2 separate regions of the Homo sapiens genome follow, and region 1 is linked to region 2. The links come from fine-mapping of genetic effects on gene expression. Tissue or cell type: whole blood. Region 2 holds a variant in brackets; the other region holds the start of a gene. All regions are shown on one strand. Distances are from middle to middle. Region 1 holds the start of CYRIA (CYFIP related Rac1 interactor A). Region 2 overlaps CYRIA (CYFIP related Rac1 interactor A).

The links. PIP is the estimated chance that this variant, and not a neighbour inherited with it, causes the effect.
Region 1: CYRIA starts here. The variant in region 2 is fine-mapped to the expression of CYRIA in whole blood (INTERVAL, PIP above 0.99).

What each region holds. Positions count from the first base shown.
Region 1 is chr2:16,664,299-16,667,209 of GRCh38, forward strand. CYRIA (CYFIP related Rac1 interactor A) reads right to left here and starts at 1,536. Exons shown (of 12, transcript NM_030797.4): 1 at 1,482-1,536. RefSeq lists silencers at 1,453-1,502, 1,573-1,742.
Region 2 is chr2:16,575,737-16,578,647 of GRCh38, forward strand. The region is part of intron 3 of CYRIA (CYFIP related Rac1 interactor A); the gene reads right to left. Among named protein-coding and RNA genes, the nearest start is that of CYRIA, 89 kb to the right of the region's middle. The variant A/G (reference allele first, on the strand shown) is at 1,238.

The sequences.
Region 1 (2,911 bases), 89 kb after region 2:
AGCCCCCAGCCTGGGCCCAGCGCCCATGTTTATGACTGTTTATTTCAGAGCAAGTAGAAAGGAGAAATTAGAGCCATGAAAGACAGGACAACGGACCAATAAAAACCAGCTCCCAGAAGAGTCAGAAGGAGGAAGACAGGCAAAACTGTCACCATAGCAACACAAGACAGTCAGAAGCACGCAGGAAAAACAGCCCCTGCTCTGCCTCCTGTCTCCACTGCAAAGCAAGCCCTCGAACCCCAACCAGAGATCAGTGAAAGCCGACAATGATCCACCCAAAGAACTCTGGTACCCAAGCCCAGACCTGGCTAGCAGCCACTCTCCTCCTGCTGCCCCAGCACAAGTCCCAGCCTTCCAGGGTCCCAGATCAGCATTCTGTGCCCTGGGGACTCGACACTGTGCAGATGGCCCAGGTCCCATCCAGAGGAGATAGTGACTGGTGACAGAGAGGAAAGTTTCTAACAGGGAGAAAAGGAGGGTCACAGAGCTTCAGGGGAGATCAGGGCCCTAAACTCCAGCCCCATGACCCTGTCTTGGGTTCCCTGGGGAGCAGGCGGGTAAACAAGGGTGTGGGAGAGGACATCAGGCCCTGGACACAGAAAGATTGCTCCATCAGTTCTGGACCTGGCACCCCCAAAACAGTGGCTGGGGGAATTCTGGGGATGCGTGGGGAAATAGCTTTGGAGGCCTTAAATGACAAAGATCTTGGCCCTGGTCTCTGGGGACACTGGCTAGCGAGTAGGAGCAGCTTGGAGGAGGACCCAGGGACGGGCTGGCCCATTTTGACAGAGAATGTCTCCTGGCAGACAAGACAGGTGTCTCCACCAAAAAGCATGGCTGGCCTGGGACCAGCATTTTGGGAAGTGGGTCAAATTGTTCCCAAAGCTCAGTATTGGAAAAGTGCCTTTTGCCAAACTGGGGTTCTGGGTTCTGGGGGAGGAGAGAGGGTGACGGCAAGGTGTGCTGGGTCCTAGGCACAGCAGCTTTCTGGCTGGCTAAGAACGTCTGTGGCAGGTGGCAACAGAAGGGTCCAGGTGTGCAGGGGCTGGGGAGGGGGCCATCCCTCCCTTTGGGGCTGTAGAGAGTACCCAGGACCCCGGGGCCTCGGGTGGTGGGAAGGGGAGTGTTAGGGGTCCCCTGCAAGAATGGAGCTTATGATACCTGGGGTGGGGGGTAAGTGAGTGAGGGACGAGGGAGGGTGGTCTGGGAAAGGAACACAATCAGGAGGCAGCCCTCTCAGAAAGAGGGCAACGGGGCACAAAGCCGGACCTCTGTCCGGCGATCGCTAGAGAAGGGCTCCCGGACGGTGTCCTCCGCTCTCCCTCCCTCCCAAAGGCTGCAGGGGCGTCCGGGAGGAGAAGGATGGCAGGGAGGCGCCCGCCCCGCCTCGCGGTGCCCCGCGGTGCCCCGTGCAGGCCGAGCCCCGCGCCCGCAGACCCCCGCCCGCGCCCCTGCCGCGCCCCCAGCCGCGCCGCGCTCACCGAGTCGCCGCCGCCCTGCTCTGCCGCCCGCTCCGCCGCCGCCGAGTACGCCTCTCCCGCGGCCGCCGCAGCCTGCGAGACGGCCTCGGAGCCCCGCCCCGCCCCTCCCCGTCCCTCCCCGCCCCGCCCCGCCCCCAGCCCGGCTCGCGGCAGCCGCCCCGCCCCGGCCCCGGGGGATCCCCACCCGCGCTGTCACCGGCCGCGTCCTCACCCTAGCCTGGACAACCCCATCTCTTTGCCCGGCTCTGCTCTCTGCTCCCAGGAGCTGGTGCGGACCCGCCCCAGCACGGTCGCCCCTGCCCCTTCTCAGCCTTGGCCACTTGGCCTTGCCTTCCCAGAGGAAGCCCGAACCAGACCTTTCTGTTTCTGCACACCAAATTCCTCCACACCCACGGTTGCCCTCCAAGAAAAAGAAATCCCCGCAATCTCTAGACGCATATTCACCTTCAAATTAATGCCCAGCCAAATCATCCCAATCCCTAGGCACACTCCAAATTACTTGAGATTCTGAACCCAGTCTCGCTCCCAGTCCCTTTCTGCCCACCCTATTAACAGATCTCCAGCCTTGGGGCCCGCAGTTATCCGATAGGACCACTGTAAAGTCTTCCCAAAGGCTCAATCCAAAACATGTAATTAACCTTAAAGAGTAAGTCTGCAAAAACACTTAAAAAATTCTATGATGCAAAAAGAAAGTAGTGGGTTACAGCGTCATTGACGTGATCATTGTTCTAAAACATCTGCCATGGAGGCTTTTTGCATTAGAGAGAGGGAGATTCAGGAAACCGGAGAGGACTCAGCAGTGCCAAACAGGTTGTGAGTCAGAGCTCCTGTTGAGGGGAGGGAGAGCTCCTGGGGACCCCGGCTTCGGGTGCTTCCTTTCCCAGTCCATCAGCCAGAACATCATGAAACATGTGTTAAATCCCCATAGTGTGCCAAGGTACGTGCCCGAAGCTGCATGGGTTGGGGCCCTGTGTGGGCTGGGATCAGAGGAGGCGGGAAGCATCAGGAGAAGGTGTTCAGGCCCCTCTCCTTTCTGAGATCCAGGGTGTTTCCCCTGGGAGGACTTGTTGCCCAAGCTTCCTTTGCACTCTGAAAGGCTCTCCTGAACTGCCCACAGAGGCTCTTGGTCTGTTTTTTGGCAAAAATTCACAGAGGGCAGGAAGGCACTGTCTAGTTAGAGTGAAATATTTTCCCACTTGGAAGGGGTCCTTAGGACCAGAAGAAACACTTTCCCGTTCTCTTTTTGAGTTTTCCCCATGCCCTAGACCAGCCTCTGTTGTCAATTCCTGCAAAGGTGTTTTTTTTGTTTTTGTTTTTTGAGACAGAGTCTCACTCTGTAGCTCAGGCTGGAGTGGAGTGGTGTGATCTCGGCTCACTGCAACCTCCATCCCCCGGGGTTCAAGCAATTCTCCTGCCTCAGCCTCCAGAGT
Region 2 (2,911 bases):
TCCCAGCTACTCGGGAGGCTGACGCAGGAGAATGGCGTGAACCCAGGAGGCGGAGCTTGCAGTGAGCCGAGATTGCGCCACTGCACTCCCACCTGGGCCACAGAGCGAGACTCCATCTCAAAAAAATAAAAATAAATAAATAAAATAAATAAATAAATAAATAAATAAATAAAGAGCAGTTCCCCTGCACAAGCTCTCTCTCTTTGCCTGCTGCCATCCAGGTAAGAGACATGACTTGCTCCTCCTTGCCCTCTGTCATAATTGTGAGGCCTCCCTAGCCAAATGGAACTGTAAGTCCATTAAACTTTTTTCTTTTGTAAATTGCCCAATCTCGGGTATGTCTTTATAAGCAGCATGAAAGTAGACTAATACAGCCTATTAAGTGCCAATGATGCCAGACACTTTTGGGAGATATGGATTCAACGATATAGTTCCTGTCCTCAAGGACCTTAGGAGGGTGAGGACAGGATCATTAGATTCAGAAAGCATTTATTGGGTACTTGTTATATGCCTACCACAGTGACAGGTGATGCGGAGGATGAAGTAATTAATAAAATAAGACTGACATCCTAAAGTGAAAGTTACGAACTATCAGTAACAATTTAGTAAAACAGTATAATAAAAGTCATCATGCAGTGAGAGCTAAATGGCATTGAATATAGAGACTTTTTTCAGGAACAACGTAAGTGGAAGCTAAGAAAGTTTCTCAGAAAGGAAGATGTAAAATATGGCATCGTCGAAGCTATTATTTCACCCTGTCTTGGAAATCTTCCCAGGATTGTCCTCCTGCAACTGTCTCTTCTATCTTTTCTCAGATCAAATTAGTTATTCTCTCCTATGAATCCTGGAGCACAGGTCGTGTCCCTGCTACAGCATTTACCAATATTGCATTATTGATGTTGGTCATTATGTCTGCCTCCTCCAGTAGAGTGTAAACTTGCAGCTATTCACACCACGACTAGCAGAAGCTTAGCACGTAGAATACCCCTTTTATGATAATGTGAAAAATTGAACCAAAAGTATTGAGTTGTTTCCATTTAAAATAAACAGATAAAGGAAATGTAGACTATACATACAATGGAATATTATTCAGTCTTAAAAAAAGAAGGAAATCCTGCCATATGCAACAACGTGAATGAACCTTGAGGATATTATGCTAAGCAAAATAAACAAGTAACAGCAAAACACAAACTGCATGATTCCACTTACATGAGGTACTTCAAGGAGTCAAAGTCAT[A/G]GAAACAGAGAGTGGAATGGTGGTTTCCTGGGCATGGGGAAGGGAAAATGAGTAGTTGCTAATCAATGGGTATAAAGTTTCCATTATGCAAGATAAATAAGTTCTAGAGATCTATGCTACAACAACTTGCCTACAGTTAAAAATACTGTATTATACACTTAAAATCTGATCAGAGGGTAGATCTCATGGTAAGTCTTCTTACCATAATAAAAAAGAAAAGAAACATAATCCAATATATTTTGTGAATTCATTTCAATTCTTATTAAGGTAAAAAAACCTATTAAATGCCATTTGAGAAAATCAGAGAAATATCTATACATACTATATATTAGATGATACAAAATAATGTTAATTTAGATATATATCTGTAACACATTTAGATATAAATATGTAACACATTTTCATATTTTTTAAAAAGAAGTAAAATTCACAAAGAATATTGCGCTCACCCTAACAAGAAAACAAGTTAGATACTCTACAAAATCCTTGTTATTTTTGACTATAAGAAAGTTGAGGTTGCAAAAGTCTTTAATGAATTATAATCCATAAGGTGACAAGACTTTCCTAGGAGATATGACACCACAGGTGATTTCAAGTTTGACAGAGAAATGGTAAAAGGAGAAAGCTGCCATAAATGCAGGTAACAAGAAAATAGCTGACATCTTCACACACTGTAAAAAGAAGAGTGTGAAGTGTCATGAAAGCTGAGAGGCCCTGGGAGCTCCAGGCAGAAGGACAGTCTATGTCAGCCTGCAAAGTCTCTTCCATGAACCTTCACCAAGTGCTAACAAAAGAAGTTGAGAACAAGAAAGGAAAAAAGATTTTAAGACAGAAACCCTCTGGGTCAGGGGAAGATACACAAGAGAAATGCTCCTACACTCTCAGTCTTATCTAAGGGTGAAGTGTGGCCATCTATGACTGCGGGAGGGGAGGAGCATTGGGAAGGTGCCCTCTAGGGCCCACCATGCCAGGCCTGCTGTGGTAGACAGAGCAGAAAAATGAAGAGAAAGCCACCAGCCACTCTCCAGTAAGTAAAGAACAACTGTCTGCCTGGTGAGGCCAAGGAGGTTGAGAAACGCCATCCTGAGAATCAGGTGTTCTGGAGGGCCTTCTGAAGCCTGAAGATGTGACAGGAAAACTGAGACAAACTCTTCAGATCCCCAGCTCTGGTAAAGGGCCTGCTTTGATCCTTCCCTCAAATCTGAAATTTACAGTGAACCACGTATAACAAGCAACAGTGTAGCCCAGATCCAGATTGGATGGACTCAACCCCACTAGTGGACTGACAGAAGAAAAGGCATGTGATTTTCTGAGTGCACGTATTATTCACATCAGTCATCACTGTTCTGCTGCCTGGCATTTGTTCAAAAAAAGCAAAGGAAAAAAATTAACAAACACAAAGCAAGAAAATATCACCAGAAAAGTAAAGATTAATAATAGAGTCTAGAGATAGTCCAGAGGTTGAAATGTACAGACGAGGATCCTAAAATAACTATAAAAATATGTTAAAGAATCTATAATGTTGAATAATGTATGGTAAAAATGGAAAATTTCAGAAAATCCTTTGAGACTATTTATTAGGTTGGTGCAAAAGTAATTGCTGTTTTTGCCATTGAAAAGGGAAATGCTAAAAATGAAAAATTCCACATTAGATGGTTTCTACTAATGATAAGC